Regions from separate parts of the Homo sapiens genome. Here region 2 is linked to region 1. Evidence: fine-mapped expression QTL. Tissue or cell type: esophagus muscle. Region 1 holds a variant in brackets; the other region holds the start of a gene. All regions are shown on one strand. Distances are from middle to middle.

Region 1 (8,103 bases):
GTACCTCCCCTTACACTTGGAGAAATTCAGATGTCTATTAAAAAATATGGGCCCAGGGGCTAAAGTTTAAGTTGCAGACTGTTTGACCTGCCTTTTGAAATGGTTAAAAACCTCTTCTGCTAAAGACGTCTTTTGGCCCAGCTTGGCTTATCAAGGTAAAAGGCCATGCAGATGTTTGAGTCTCAAGTCTTAGGAATTAAGAGTAGACATTCACCTGGAGTATCTTCTCTGCCTAATATCCCTAGTGCATGTAGGTAGAAAAACAGTTCAGGGAAGACCCCATTCCTGGCCACTTATTTTCTTATTATTTTGGCTTTCTACGTGTATTTTCCTTGCATACTTACAGGCTTTAAATCCTTTGCTAGATTGCTCTTGAGGTCAAGAACTGATCACCAATTCTTAGCATCAATTCCTCCTGATACTTAGTAAAAACTCAGCAAAGATTTATGGAATGAACACTTAAAAATATTAGGTGGCCGGGCGCGGTGGCTCACGCCTGTAATCCCAGCACTTTGGGAGGCTGAGGCGAGTGGATCACCTGAGGTCAGGAGTTCCAGACCAGCCTGGCCAACATGGCGAAACCCCCATCTCTACTAAAAGTACAAAAATTATCCGGGCTTGGTGGCGGGCACCTGTAATCCCAGCTACTCAGGAGGCTGAGAGAGGAGAATCACTTGAACCCGGGAGGTGGAGGTTGCAGTGAGCCGAGATCGCGCCACTGCATTCCAGCTGGGTGACAAGAGTGAGACTCCGTCTCAAAACAAATAAAAAATTAAAAAAATTAAGTGGTATTACACGGCCCTAAGTAACTGATTGCAAAAGAAATAATTAAGTCTTTTAACTGAAAATAGTTGCCACAGGACTTTAAGGAACAAGCCCTTTGGATTAGGGTGATCAGAGAAGTCTTCTCAGAGGAATTCCCAGAGAATACTAAGTTAGCAGTTAAGTATCAGGAAATGGCCAAGAAATAAAATAACATGAGCTTCTAAAGATGGAAATCAAGGGATAACTTGCTTCCTGTGTTTGCAAGCATATGCCATGGGGGAGATCCATGGCCTCTTGCAAGTGGCATGTTGCATTCTTCCTGTGGACAATGCAGCTGCTATTTACCACTATGCCCTGAAGTACAGTCATATTGTAAGACTTCAGTAAACTTCCTGAAGCCAAAGGGAAAGAGGTAAGTTGTAGCCCATTCTTTAAGCTGCTTCTTCTCTTTGCTGGTTGTCACCTTCAAGCATGCTAAGGAAATGTGTTTATTCAGTCCTCACCTGAGAACACTCAGACTTAAACAGCCAAAGAAGACAAGTTAGGAAGATCATTTTAGATGAAAACCAACCTCCTGGAGCATTTGTTAACGACAGATGAGATAAAACTGTTGACTGATTTCTCTCTAAAATATTCTTCCTTCTTGGCCTTTTTTTTTTTTTTTAAAGGGGTCTTGGTCTGTCACTCAAGCTGGAGTGCAGTGGCACAATCACGGCTCACTGTAACCTCGAACTCCTGGGCTCAGGCAGACCTCCTGCTTCAGCCTCCAAGTAGCTGGGATTAGAATAGCTAGGACTACAAGGATGTGCCACCAGACCTGGCTAATTTTTAAATTTTTCTTGTAGAGATGGGGGTCCCCCTATGTTGCCCAGGCTGGTCTTGAACTCCTGGCCTCAGTCCTTCTACTTCAGCCTCCATAAGTGGTGGGATTACAGGCCTGAGTCACTGCGCCTGGCCCCATCTTTGATTTCTTCATAGCATTTCTCTTTCTCTGCTTGCCCCTTAAAACTTGATAATTCCCAGGCTTTGTTTTCTACCTCATTTTCTTTTCTAGTTAATCTCATCCATGTCCTAACCTGTAACTGATAAATCCCAAATTACTATCTCTACCTCAGTCCTCTTTCATGAGTTCCAGACTTTTTTATCCAGCTTCCTGTGGATATTGTCACCTGAATGTTCATAGCCACTTCATACAATGTGTTCAAACCGTACTTACCATCTTTTTTTTCTCCTCCACTTCCTCTTCTATATATCCTTTCTTACTACCCCGTCAAACATAAAATCTAACACTCCTCTCCCTCAGAATATATAACATGGGTATAACAATGCCTCTTGCTTTAACATTTCCCCCGTTAGGTTATGAACTTCTTAAGGGCAAGGATTGTATCTTTTCATTACGCCTGTTAACAAGATGTTGTTACTTAATAGGTGTTCATTTATTTTTTGTTTTTTATTTATTTTATTTTTTCGAGAAAGAGTCTCGCTCTGTCACCCAGGTTGAAGTGCAGTGGTGTGATCATGGCTCACTGCTGCCTTGACGCCCTGGGCTTAGGATATCTTAGGTTATCTTCCCACCTCAGCTTCCCAAGTAGCTGGTGGAAGGGGCAAAAGAACTCCTGTGGGCCTCTTTTATAAAGGCACTAATCCCATTCATTAGGGCTCTGCCTTCATGATCTGTTCACCTCCCCAAAGGCTCACCTCCTAATGTCATCACCTTGAGGGTTAGGATTTTAACATATGAATTTTGGAGTGACACAGACGTTCAGGCAATTCAACCCATTACAGGTACCAAAGTAGTTTTTCATGTTTATTTACAAGTCTTATCTTCTGACAAAGCACTTGAAAAGGTTCCTACCTTCTCACCATCCTGATGTTTACTCTCTGATGGCACTCTACATAGGGCCATCTGGAAACAGAAAGGATGAGATGGCACATTAAGTGAGTGCAAGGGGTTTGCTTTGACTAAAGTTAGGGTGTTGGGAAGCCAAATTCCTCTAGACATGGGCAGGTCAAGAAAGAACTTTGATAACATGTAAAGAACTAGGACTTTTTTTTTTTTCACAGTCACTGACGGATTTTAAGAAAATGAGTGACAAAAACTTATGTACATCTTAGAAATATCCCCCTAGCAAATTGTGCATCACGGATCAAGGGTAAAGAGGAGTGAGTGGGAGGTGGTTCTGGAGGAATGGAGTCTAGGGAGAATGAATATTTTGCAGTAGTTGAAGTGAGAAATAAGCCTGGACTAAAGATTGCAGAGGAGACACTGATAGATAAGAAGGTAAAATAGATTATGGCAGAGGCACAAAGGGCTTTGCAGGGGCTTCTCTCACTGGGTAAAGAATTAGAATATATGGATTCCAATGATCCAGTATCTGAGCAGAGAAGTCATCTCTGCATGGGTTGATATGGGTGAGCTGGCAGCCTAGTCCTCTAAACACGTAGTTCTCTCTTCAGACTTACCTAGTTGAGTGCTTCCCTTTCTTTCCACCATGCTTCCCTCTTACTGTCAGAGATCCCCAGTGAAGGATACGCCTTCATTAAGTCTTCTTTTCCCCTTTGTACATTAGCTACCTTCCTGTAATTCAGTACCTCATATCAGATACTTTTGAATATTTGGAGAATCCTGTAGGGAAAAACCCA[C/T]CTCTTTGGGATCCCTTCATTGAATGTGAAGACACTTGAAACTCATCTGCTGGTTAGGGACATATTTCCACAAGACTATAGAAACAGGGGCCTAAGCCAGGAGAATTCTCCAGATTTGGGTTTGCCCTATATCTTATTCTTAGATGTATCTTAGAACAAGCCATAAAGAACTGAGGGGATATTTGATCAATATTAACCCAGTTAGTCTCCACTTAGTACAAGAGGTTCATTTCTCCCTGGGATGTCAAATTTTGGATTCCTTTTAGAGGATCCTCGGTATATGGCCTCTTTGTTTCCTTTGGGTATAGAGATTGAGGCAGGGCCAATGCACTCTGTGGCTTGGGCTGGGATATATATATAAACAAATACTACTTTAGGACCGGCATTAGTCCTAAATCTGGGAGCTGTGACTTTTGATCGGGTTTATGTGAGAGGGCAGTAGACATATAGGTTTCTTATGATCATGAATTGTTAATTATTTGGTCCTGAAATAGATAGGGGGCCACAGCCTTTGGAGGTACAGGCTGAAAACCTAACTGGTTAGCTGGCCAGTTCCAAGAAGTTTATCAGCTCCTTATGTTCAAGTTTCTGCTAATCAGGGATGGTCCTTGACCTGATTGTAGGACTAAGACTTGTCAGCAATTTATGACTCTTAGGGCCTGCCTTGCAGCTTGTCGGGTCTGTTTAGGTAACAAAGCAGCTATGTCTTAGTGCATCAGTAAAGTCAGCACATCTCTGCCAGGCTTGTCACTCCCCTAGGATGGCATGCTCCTCAGGGAAGGAGCAGGATTACCTCCTGCTGCCCGTCATTCTCTGCTGCATATGCTTTCTCCATGGTGTAGGGAGGGCATCATTCTACAGCGGGAAAAATGACTTTTCTTAGCCACCAGAAAAATCATCTTCCTCATGAAATAAATCCCAGCTGTGTGACTATATGTCAGCTTTTTCATGTTGCTTCTGGCTTTCCTCAGCAGTAGAGAAGGAAAACAGTCACAAGCTGACTCTTGCATGATATAGATATTGGCCGCACCCATCCTTTGTACTCTGCGTCTGTGTTGATATTGGACAATAAGGTAAGCACCTGCTGGTCCTGACCCAGCCTGTCTCTGGCATTGACACCTGAAAAGGCAGGCCAGGTTTGGAGCAGGCATATTCTTTGCTTCTAGACCAGTTGTATCTGACGTCAGGGAGACTTAGACTGGTTTGTATGAGTAGGGAGAATTGTGATTGGTGAGGCCCTCCTCCAGTATTTCTGTGACACCACTCAGTTGCTTTAGCTGAAGATGAATTTTGTATGCCAGGTGGTTTTCTGACTAACCCACCCATTCGGCTCCCCTTTAGAACTCCTGCAGGTCTGAACCTTCCCACAACTCTGCGTGAGTGTCAGTGTATCATGTTGAGTTTCCATCTTGACTCATCTGTCTCTAGGCGAAGATCCCTGCAAGGATTTAAATTGGGAACCAGACCTTGAGAATGTCTGTTCAGAGCATTTCACAGCTTCTGGATAAATGCCTTTTCCTTCTTAACCCAATCTGTTTTTCCAGTTCTGCCCAGCTAGCTCCTGAGCAGCCTACTTTGAGGAAGCTTCCCAACTGAGGTGGGTGCTGTGCTATTTCTTACCTCTAAAAAGCACCCCATCCTTTCGGCCTACTCAGGCTTCCCCAGGGCCAGATCCACTGTGATGAGGGGGCTGCATTGTTGCCCATGTGGCTCACAAAACAAATTGCCTGCTTGTCCCAAAGAGCTAGTCCACTGAGGAGTCCTGATGTCCTTTGGCCATGTGGTGTCTGGCACTCTGTGGGCCCTGTAGAACAGTGGCAGAAGGGGCCATGCTCTTTTACAAGAGCTTCCACTGACTGTTTGCCACTTCCCCACTTACTCTGTTTCTTGCTTTTGCTGGAACATGGGAAGGTGGATAGATACAAAGGTAATTTGTGGTCAAAGCTGCATGAGCTCTCCTGTGAAGTTTGAAGATTGTAACTGGAGATGGCAGATTTGTTGTGCCTCATGTGCTAACCACGTCTTCTACTGCCTGAGCCTTTGTTTTTCTGGAAAGCCCAAGCTGCTTAGAAAAATGGGCTGGATGTGTTTGGGTGACAAGACAGGGTGGGTTCCATTAGCCTCAGAAATGCCATCTGGAGGCCTTAGCCAGGCCTTAGGGCCACTTTGTCAATTAGGCAGGAAGAAGTAGGTTCTTTTAGCAGGGTCCTACCTCTGGGGAATCTTTCCCACTCTTGAAAGTTTGAGCTTCTCCTTAGCCTAGGAAGCCTGACCAAACCTGATAGTGACAGCCACTGTTCTGGGCTCTTTATGAGTGGCTGCAGATTTGGGGGAGGGAATTCTAATTTAATCAATCTTCCCTATATTTCTTGTTTTAAACCTTTTACCTCCTTCTCCTGGCTGAAGGATGGGAAACTCCACAGTAAATTGGCTGTGACTTCCACAGAAACTTGACAGTTTTCAAGTTATTTTTTTCCTCTGTGTTTAGATGCGGTTATAGTTGTGCTGTCAGGCCTTATCTCTTCTGTCATCTAGCCAGCTCCCAACTAGGTTAGGAGGTATGTGCTCTGCTGTTAGTGTTGGCTGTGTAATGAGGTGGATGGCTAAGAAATGGGTTGTTTAGCATCTCTTGGAATCTAAATTTTCTTCCTTGGTTGAGGGGGAAGCAATGTTATTGGAAGAAGGCAGTAGGGAGGCACATGTTGGCTCTGAAATCAACCCTTTCTTCTCAGGATCTTGGATAAGCCAAACAAATCATTCTTAATTTAAATGCTTGTTTTATCTACCATAAAGGGCTGCCTGTTCTGCAATGGCAGATCCTAGGATGGTCCCCATAGACTGACTACCTGGTTTGTGGGCTAAAGAGGCCATACTCTGTTGTGGATTGCCATGAGGAATGTTGCAGGGCAGCAGAAGTCACAAGGTTTGAGAGCCTGGTTTGGGCATGCTGGGTAAATCAAACTTGCCCACGTACTGTTGGCCTAAGGAGGAAGAGGGCCTTTTCTCTTAAGATCAAGCTCAGGGGAGTCAGAAGAGGAATGACTTCACTGGATTGTTACTGGCTGATCGAGCTCTATATTGAGAAGGATTCTGAGGTTATCTAGGTTCATTATGCGATGTTTTTCATGTCCTATGGTTGCAGAGTGGAAAGGGGATATCACATTTCATGTATTTGGCATTTTATGCTACAGAGCTTCAAGGGGTCCTGGCTTGTGCTCGGACATTATGTTGCAGTGAACAACTTGAGTGTTCTTTGAAGATAAGGACATTCAATTTCCCAGTGAGTCCTAACTAGAATTGTTGAATTATTAGGAATTAGGGTCACATGAGAGCCACCTGGCTAGTGAGTCTCCAGGGAGATAGGGCATCCATTGGCAAAGAAGGGTTATGAAATTTGGGGTCATAAAAGGGGCCCTGAACCTTAGGCAGCTTTTTGGTCATGGTGATATCACTTTAGGTTACTTCGTTCCTAATTCTGGATTCTGAAACCATCTTTGGTCTAGACTTCTGCAATACAGAGTTCATCTCAGCTCACCTAACTTCCCCTCCTTCTCTCGGGTTGTTGCTTTGGCATAGCCTGAGGGAGCTCTTATTTTCCAGTTGATTCTCTTGTGGTGGTTGTTCAGTAAGAACTGGAATAGATGTCTACTCCAAGAACATGGCACTGTTTGATTTTAACTGCACTTGATCACTGTACCTATCCTTCAGCTTTGCCAAATGCTGACAACAGATTATATATACACGAAACCAACCAACCAACCAACTTAGAGCTTGTCTCAGTAGAAGGGAAGACTCCCTTTGTATTGTGCTCCAGCAGTTCCACGGCTGGCATGCTGTGTTCCGGCTTCCCTCTGAGACTAGGAGCTCCTGAAAGTATAGGTCTCCATCTGTGTCTGTTTATATCCTATAGCCCAGATGTGAGAGAGGTGGATAGGGGAAAAGAAAGCAGGGAGGAGAAGAACGAGGGAAGGAAATGGAGGAGGGGAGAGAGTAAGATCTATATTTAGCAAAAGGGAGAGACACTTACCAAGGGTGTGTGAGTGAGCTTGCTGGCAAGGGTTGTGTGTGCGTGAGTGTGCTGGGAAGGGGGTGTGTGCGCCAGGAACGTGTGAGGAGGGCTGGTGCCCTATGGGAGGTTGCAGGCAGGAAGCAGCTGGAGAGGAGGAGGAGCAGCAGCAGGAGCAGGAGCTGCCCTGCTTTCTGCCTCAGTCTCAAAGCCCAGAATCGATTGAGTTAGAATTCCACATCCAGTTGAAGTTTGGCTGCTGTTGCCTTCAGCAGGCTGATCTCAGAATCCCCCTTGCCAGAGAGGTGTGGACCAGGTTAGATTTCTACGTTTGCAGCCAGTGAGACTCCTGCCAAGCCCTTCACTGAGGGGTTTTTTTGCAGGGCATTGTTTCTGTCATCAACTTTGTGCCGTGGAGCCAGCCAGCTGGGTGCAACTGAGAATATTAGCTCCTTGGGTCTGTTTGTCGGTTGGGCAAGCAGTGGTGCTTTGGCTCAGAAAGTTCGTCCTGTGGCTTCTCTGTCAAACCAAGGAGTGCTCCTGGATGGATTTCCTCTTAAAGACAGCATTTGCCTTCTAAAACTTGAGAATTCATGGTTTTAATTTTTTTTTTTAATTTCCTTAACCCTTATTTTGGTTGCAGCAGCAAGGTAAGTGGTACCGAGTGTGTATGACTGACTGAACAACAA
Region 2 (8,089 bases), 180 kb before region 1:
TCATCTATTTTCTCTAAGGGCAGCCACTATAAGACTTCAAAAGAACCTTGGTCTCCACAGTGTTTTTTCTTAACCTAAATATTTCCTTTCTATGATCCCTGGTCTTTAGACAAACTCAACCAATTTTCAACCAGAAAATGTTTAAATTTACCTATAGTCTGGAAGCCCCCCTTTGAGTTGTTCCGTCTTTCTGGACCAAACCAATGTATTTCTTAAATGTATTTGATTGATGTCTCATGCCTCCCAAAAATTTATAAAACCAAGCTGCACCCCAACTACCTGGGGCTCATGTTCTCAAGACCTCCTGAGGGCTGTGTCATGGGCCATGGTTACTCATATTTGGCTTAGAATAAATCTCTTCAAATATTTTACAGAGTTTGATTTTTTTCATCAACATTAGTAAAGATTTTACTTAAGTTATGTAAACTTGAAAAAGCATTTGACTATTTTATTTTTTCCTGAATAAGTGTTTGATTTAAGCACTTTTATTTTCTTACGCCAATTAATTAGAGCTCTTTTATATATTTTCAGTAGTGAAACATTGTGTACACAACACATAAATACATAGACACATTAGGCATGCTGATAGAGGTACATCTTTTTTTTTTTTTTTTTGAGACAGAGTTTTTCTCTTGTCACCCAGGCTGGAGTGCAATGGCATGATCTCAGCTCACTGCAACTTCTACCCGCTGGGTTCAAGTGATACTTCTGCTTCGGCCTCCCGAGTAGCTGGGACTACAGGCATGTGCCACCACGCCTGGCTATTTTTGTATTTTTAGTAGAGACAGGTTTCACCATGTTGTCCAGGCTGGTCTCGAACTCTTGACCTTAGGTGATCTGCCCACCTCGGCCTCCCAGAGTGTTGGGATTACAGGCGTGAACCACTGCACCTGGCCTAGAGGTACCTCTTATAGATTCATAAAAAACGTTTTTTTTCCTTAGGCTTTCAGATTCTTTTTTTCCCCTCCTCCCTCCCCGCTACTTTCAGATTCTTGATAACCTGTTTCACAACCCTAGGCAGTTGTCAGCTAAATAGCCTTAAATTTGCATATTAAAGAAAACAACTCAGGTGAACTCCAAACAGCAAAATTTACATTATAAAGTGTGGAGAGAAAAAGTCTGGTGTGCTAGACGGAAATTGAAACAGATTTAATGGCCAATTAAACATAAAATTATAGAAATTATAAAAGCCTTTTAAATACACACACACACACATCCTATAGCTTTTACTTCAGAACTTTTAGCTATGAGATAAATTCAAATTTACCGGTTTGCAAAAAGAACTTGTTGGATCTAAACTGTGGTTTTTATCTTAACAGAAAATAATGGCAGATTTAGAGCAGGCAGAAAAGAATAGAGAAAAGAGGTCTTAGGAACTCTATAATTAGTAGGTCGACCTTAGGGCTCTTTTTTCTTAATGTAAATGTGCACAAAGACCATATTTTTTCCATTTTACATAAACTTTGGCAGTAGAGGTGCCATAAAACCTACAGAGTGCTCAAAAGAGGGTCATTCTCCTTGTTTTCTTCTCATTCTTAGATTATTTGTTTTCCACTTCTTTTTTTCTTAAAAGGAGAAACTGAGCTGTGGCTTAGAGTTTCTGTGTGGTGGATCATCACGTGCTGCTTGTGGGCAGGACTCCACAATGTGCCACCACTGAATGGTTTCCACCCTCTTACATGTCTCAGTTTCTCTCTCCAGAGGTTTATGACTTCTGAGAGGGCTCACAACACTGGGTGATCAGCCCTTCAATGTGTTTCCTGGATGAGCCAGTTTTTAAATTAAATATATATATATATATTTTTTTGAGACAAGGTCTTACTCTGTTGCCCCGGCTGGAGTGCAGTGGCATAATCTTGGTTCACTGCAACCTCCACTTTCTGGGTTCGGGCAATTCTTACGTCTCAGTCTCCTAAGCAACTGGGGTTACAGGCACGCACCACTACACCTGGCTAATTTTTGTATTATTAGTAGAGATGCGGTTTTGCTATGTTTGTCAGGCTTGGTCTTGAACTCATGACCTCAAGTGATCTGCCTGCCTCGGCCTCCTGAAATGCTAGGATTATGTGTGTGTGACCGCACCTGGCCTAAATTAATTTTTGTTGGGGATTTCCCTGCAGGACCACTGCACATCGTTCGGGGTCAACCTTTCAGACACTCCCACAAGGTCCCCAGTCACTCAGGGGCACCTTTCAGTTGGGAGGGGCAAATGCCCTTTCTTTTTGGAGCTGAGAAAACTCAGTCTCTGATATACCTATGAAAGCAACAGTTCAGTTCCTCATGCAAATGCACACAGACAAACGGAATTGAGATTAATGTTGGGAGAAAAAGCAATATAAAGGATCCTTCAGAACGGATCTCCAAACTAGAATTAGGATTTTTTTTTTTTTTTGAGATGGAGTCTCGCTCTGTCGCCCAGGCTGAGTGCAGTGGCACGATCTCGGCACAGTGCAACTTCCACCTCCCTGGTTCAAGCAATTGCCCTACCTCAGCCTTCGAATAGCTGGGATTACAGGTGCACACCACCAGGCCCGGCTAATCTTGAACTTGTGGGGTCAAGTGGTCCGCCCGCCTCAGCCTCCCAAAGTGCTGGGATTACAGGTGTGAACCACCGCACCTGGCCTAGAATTAGGATTCTTAAACAACGACTTCCTAGGAGAGAAAATTAAAAAAAAAAAAAAAAAAAAAAAAGGAAACAGCCAAAACCACTTCCTATAAACTGTGCTCAGCCACCCGTAACTTTGTAGCTCTTTTCCAACAATATACACACCAAGGTCAAATCCTCTCACAGTGCAAGGTCATCTCTGGCACCCAAAGCCAAAAAGGTCAGGTCATGCAATACAGGAAAACAGAGCTTTAGACCTAAGAAGAATCTGCCCATGACTCTTGAAATCCCACAAAGCCAAGAGAACACCCCAAAAGGGGGTGAGTGGCACCTTTGTTCTAAATTCTTTTTTTTTTTTTGAGATAGAGTCTTGCCCTGTCACCCAGGCTGGAGTGCAATGGCACGATCTCAGCTCACTGCAACCTCCGCCTCCCAGGTTCAAGTGATTCTCCTGCCTCTGCCTCCTGAGTAGCTGGGATTACAGGCACGTGCCACCATGCCTGGCTAACTTTTTTTGTATCTTTAGTCGAGACAGGGTTTCATCATGTTGGCGAGGCTGAGTCTCGAACTCCTGACCTCGTGATCCGCCCACCTCGGCCTCCCAAAGTGCTGGGATTACAGGCGTGAACCATGGCGCCCGGCCTAAATTCTTTAAAGAGGTTCAAGTCATTAGAAGCCTTCTCTCGATTTTTTGGTAATGCAGATGGCAAAGGGTGAAGGAGGTATAGGGTGGAAGAAAAGTAAACAAAAGAACAATTGAATTTTTTTTTTTTTTTTTTTTAATTTGAGACAGAGTCTCACACTGTAGCTCAGGCTGGAGTGCAATGGCTCGATCTCCACTCACTGCAACCTGCGCCTCCTGGTTCAAGCAATTCTCCTGCCTCAGCCTCCCGAGTAGCTGGGATTACAGGCACCCGCCACCATGCCCGGCTAATTTTTTTTGTATTTTCAGTAGAGACAGGGTTTCACTATGTTGGCCAGGCTGGCCTTGAACTCCTGACCTCGTGATCCGCCCGCCTCGGCCTCCCAAAGTGCTAGGATTACAGGTGTGAGCCACCGCGCCCGGCCTAAGAACAGTTTAATTTTTAAGACCAGGAAGCAAACACAGAAACCAAATACATGGTTTTTTGTTTTCTGTTTGTTTTTTCTTTTGCAGCTGTGAGGAATTTTACTCAAATTAGATAGGCCTTGTTACCCATAATTTGGAATTCTCACTTGGATTTGACCAAGTGAAGTAGAGTTGGTCAATGGGAAAAAGACAAACAAAATAAAAAAAAACCCAACAATATGATCACTGAGCACTCTAATGGTAAGCAGAAATTAAGACCAGCTGGTTGTTAACTTTAGCCAAGACAAAAATCCCTATTCAGCTACTTACCTAGGGGTGCGTCTCAGGCTGAAAACGGCTGTCTACCATCCCAGAAGTAGGAAAAAAACCCCTCATCTTCCCTGTTGGAAGTGAGCTCAAACTCCATAAAAGAGTTACCTGCCTTCCCTCGTCATGGAAGCAGGAAAACTTGCCTTCCTTGTTGGAAGCAAGTAAAACTCCAAAATAATAATAATAATAATAATAATAATAATAATAATAGAGGGAGTTGTACAACAAAATGAACTTTAGATCTCGACCAAATTTTGGGAGATCAGGGATTCTCTGGAGGGGGTGCTCCTAGACCTTAGCAAATTGTCCTGTTGGTTTGAGCCATGGAGTTAGCTCATGTTGGTACCAAGCATGGATAGGAGATTTGTCAAAGATCAGAGGTATCTCCACTCACAATCCCTCCGTGGTTACCATCCTTCATTCAGTAAATATTTACGGACTGATTACCATACACTAGGCACTATTCCAGACATTGGAGATACAATGATGAGCATAAAAAACGGTCTAGATAAGAACTGAGGTCTCCAGACATACTTTATGCCCACTCAGTTTTGTCTTTTGCCCTAGTTGCTAAACAAAACTTAACTTTGCTGTGCGGTGCGACTTCGTTAACTTAAAATTACAGGCTGTCAGCTATGACCGCTAGACTCTAAGAAAGTCCAGTGGAAATCCTTCAATGAAAAGAATCTGTTCTTGGGTGGAAGCCCCGCTCATGCAGGAGGAACAGAGGGCTTCCATTCTCGCGTCACACAACTGAGGGTCAACCCCTTGCTCCCTGCAGTAAGCCTGATTAGTGGGCGGAGCTTCCTTCAGGATCGCAAGAAAGAAAGGAGGAAGGGGACCCCGCCTCCTACGTGCTCGCGGGGGGGGGCGGGGTCGGTGGACTGGGCGTGAGTTAATTGGCTGGGGGGCGGGGCACCACGGGTTGGCTCCGCCCAGGCGCTCGCGCGGATCCCGGGTGGAATGACGGGAGGGAGTCCCGGCAGCTCCTACCTCCCAGCGATGGCGTCGCTGTGCCGCGCCCAGTCCCCAGCCTGCCGGCCGGTACTCACCGCTACCCGGAGTTCGCTCAGACGGTGAGATTTGGGGCGGGTCCGAGGCAGCGGCGGGACGCTACCTGCGACCGGGACCATGAGGAGCTGCCAGACCCGTGGGGCCGGTAACGAGAGCAGTCGCGGCACCTGCTGAGAGGAAAGAGGGAGCGGTCCGGCGCGGCTGGGGCGCGGCAGAGGCTTGCCCGATCCTCGGCCATGTCACTGCTCTGCGTGCGCGGTGAGTGCGCGGACTGAGGCGGGGAGGCGGGGTGTCGGCGTAGAGGTCCCCGCACCCTTCCAGTGGACGTCCGGTGACCGTCTCACCCAAACTTTACATCCCGTCCGTGCTTTGGGGGTCTATTATTTTGGCAATCACTTAACAATCACTTGAGTTCTTTCCACTTTCTTGTTTTCCCCCAAGCTCCTGCAAGGGACGATTAGCTCTCCATTCTGGTAGCCATGTGACAATGTTGTTGGACTGCAGGCTCAGATCCTATTAAACAGTGACTGGGGTTCTCTAGTGAGAGTGGACGAGTTAGAAGACCGCGGATGGTTGGTGCCTGTGAATGGTGGGCAGCCTCTCATTCTTTTCCTCCTCCTCGCACCGTAACGCTACAGTATGCTTAGTAGCAGGTTCTTTTTATCACACTTTGAATGCGTTAGTGGTACAGCTGTCACATCCCTTCTATTGCTTGTCTTGTCCCCTGCCACTTCCCTGAACACTAACCGGTAGTATAGGCTAAGATTATTCTTCTGTTCCACTTGGGAGGATGTGGTGACTGCTTTTGAGGATAAGAGGTATGATTTATTTTTATTTTTATTTTAGCTTGCCTCACAGTAACTCAAGGTGAAGGGCCATTATTGCTTTTCCCCTGAGGACACTTGACCCATCTAAGAAGATATCTTAAAGCAAGAGCTTTGGGGTTTAAGATGAGGCATGGTACGCGAACTAAGTTCTATGTGGGTAGAGACTGTTTCTTATTAGTTTTTGTATTCCTGGTGTCTGACGTAGTAGAAGCTTAATGCTGGTTTTGAATGAATGCAAGTACTGTGACTTCAGAGAGATTATCTGATCAGGAAAACACAGGGTTTGGATTAGCCATTGAATTTGATCTCGGGAAATTCAGGTTACAGCCTATCATATCTGATGTGTCTTGATTATGAATGAGAGAGCATTTATCAACTAGAGCCTTTACCTGATATCTTTTACTGGAGAGTTCATATTTCTTTTGGCTCTACAGATTAGAAGCATTGTTGTTGTTTGTGATTTCTCCAATAACGATGTTTCCCCCAGCTACTGGCAGATGAAACTGCTTTGCTCTGTTCTCTTCCACTATTTTGTTGAATCTGCATTAACCAAAATGGATTTGGCCATTTCCCGGGATTATGAGATATACAGTTTTTCTTCTTTCATGGTTGATTTTTCATTAATGAGAATTTTGCTTTGCTTTTAGTAAGACATTTTCTCTCAGCAGCTGGGAATCTATTTATTCCTTTAGATCCCTGCTGCTGAGTAGCAGGATTTGGGAGAGGTTGGACTTTGCTGTGTCTCTTGGACAGTTTAATTCTCTACGGCCACACTGTATTACAGAGCTGGTCCTTATGAAAGACTCTTTAGGCAGGAGCACTCGTGAATCAGAAATTCCTATTTAACTGAATTTATATAACTACTGGTGTTTTCATTTGTTTTAATAGCAGGCAGGTTTCATTGTCTAGAAATTCTGCTATTTAGCTAACTTCTTTCCTTTTTAATGTTACTTTAGTGAAGTTTCTTCTTTTTTGAATCTGGAGAAACGAGATCAGCAGGCCATTGTCTTTTTGAATAGAGATCTAGAAGATTTTAAATACTGAAACAAACAGGTACCTTATATGCAGATATTCATATTGAATGGCAAAGTATTCATTTTGGGAAAACTTACAGAAATGAATTGAAATACATCTTTATTTTTATTTCTTTTTCTTTTTTTGAGACAGAGTCTCATTCTGTCACCCAGGCTGGAGTGCAGTGCTGCGATCTTGGCTCACTGCAACCTCCACCTCCTGGGTTCAAGTGATTCTCATGCCTCAGCCTCCCGAGCAGCTGGAATTACAGGAGTGAACCACCAGGCCCGGCTAATTTTTGTATTTTTTGTAGAGACAGAGTTTCACTGTGTTGGCTAGGCTGGTCTTGAACTTCTGACCTCAAGTGATCCATCTGCCTTGGCCTTCCAAAGTGCTGGGATTAGAGGCATAATCCACTGCACCCAGCACAAAATACATCTTTCTAAAATGACATTCCTTGCGTTGTATTTTGGCAGTAGGAATGTTGTATTCTGAAAGCAGTCTATATAGTGATATTTATTACAACTCAATTTCAATTCATCTTGGAGTAGAATCAATTAGAAACTTCCTATGCAGAGTTCAAAAAGTAGTTAACTTGATGTAGAAATTGGCAAACTGGTATTGAATTAATCATTCCTAAACATTTCATTCAAGAAGTCAGTTATTTTGTCTTGCCCTTTAATCATGCCTTATTGCCTGCAGGTTTAAGGCTCTCAATACTCTGACTCCAGACTTGTGGCCTTCTATTCTTGCCTATCCTTATGCAGACTTTGCTCTAGCACTAACTTTGTTTATTCCTGCCTCTGCTCTGTTCTGCACTTGTGCCCCCTGAAATACTCGTTCCATATTTTCTGCCTATCTAAAATGTATTCTTACTTTCCCAGCTAACAGTCTACTTTTTTTGTTGTTGAAAACTTCTTCAGGTCCCCAGTCCACAGTGATCTCTTTTTCCTTTAAATCCTCGGAGCACTTGTGGTCTGAACAGTGCCACTAGTTTGGAAATGAATCATATGCTGCCTGCAACTGGTCTTGTATTGTGGTGCTTATGGTGACCCAGACAAAGGAAGTAATTGCACTGGTCAGATCAGATCTGGAATTTTGTGTTCAGCTGTGGTATTTCCTTCTAAGAAGCATATTGAGAAGCTAGGTTATCTTAAGAGGGGAGTGATTAGAATAATGAAACATGTAGGAACCGAACCATTTGAAGAATATGGGAAATTTAGTTGTAGAAGATTTAAGAGGAAGAGGATC

Evidence for each region. PIP is the estimated chance that this variant, and not a neighbour inherited with it, causes the effect.
Region 2: UNC13B starts here. The variant in region 1 is fine-mapped to the expression of UNC13B in esophagus muscle (GTEx, PIP above 0.99).

Annotation. Positions count from the first base shown.
Region 1 is chr9:35,334,281-35,342,383 of GRCh38, forward strand. All of the region lies in intron 11 of UNC13B (unc-13 homolog B), which reads left to right. Among named protein-coding and RNA genes, the nearest start is that of RUSC2, 150 kb to the right of the region's middle. RefSeq lists a silencer at 952-1,246. The variant C/T (reference allele first, on the strand shown) is at 3,409.
Region 2 is chr9:35,157,051-35,165,139 of GRCh38, forward strand. UNC13B (unc-13 homolog B) reads left to right here and starts at 4,959. Exons shown (of 40, transcript NM_001371189.2): 1 at 4,959-5,255. The coding sequence starts at 5,234. RefSeq lists an enhancer at 765-1,318 and a silencer at 4,825-4,954.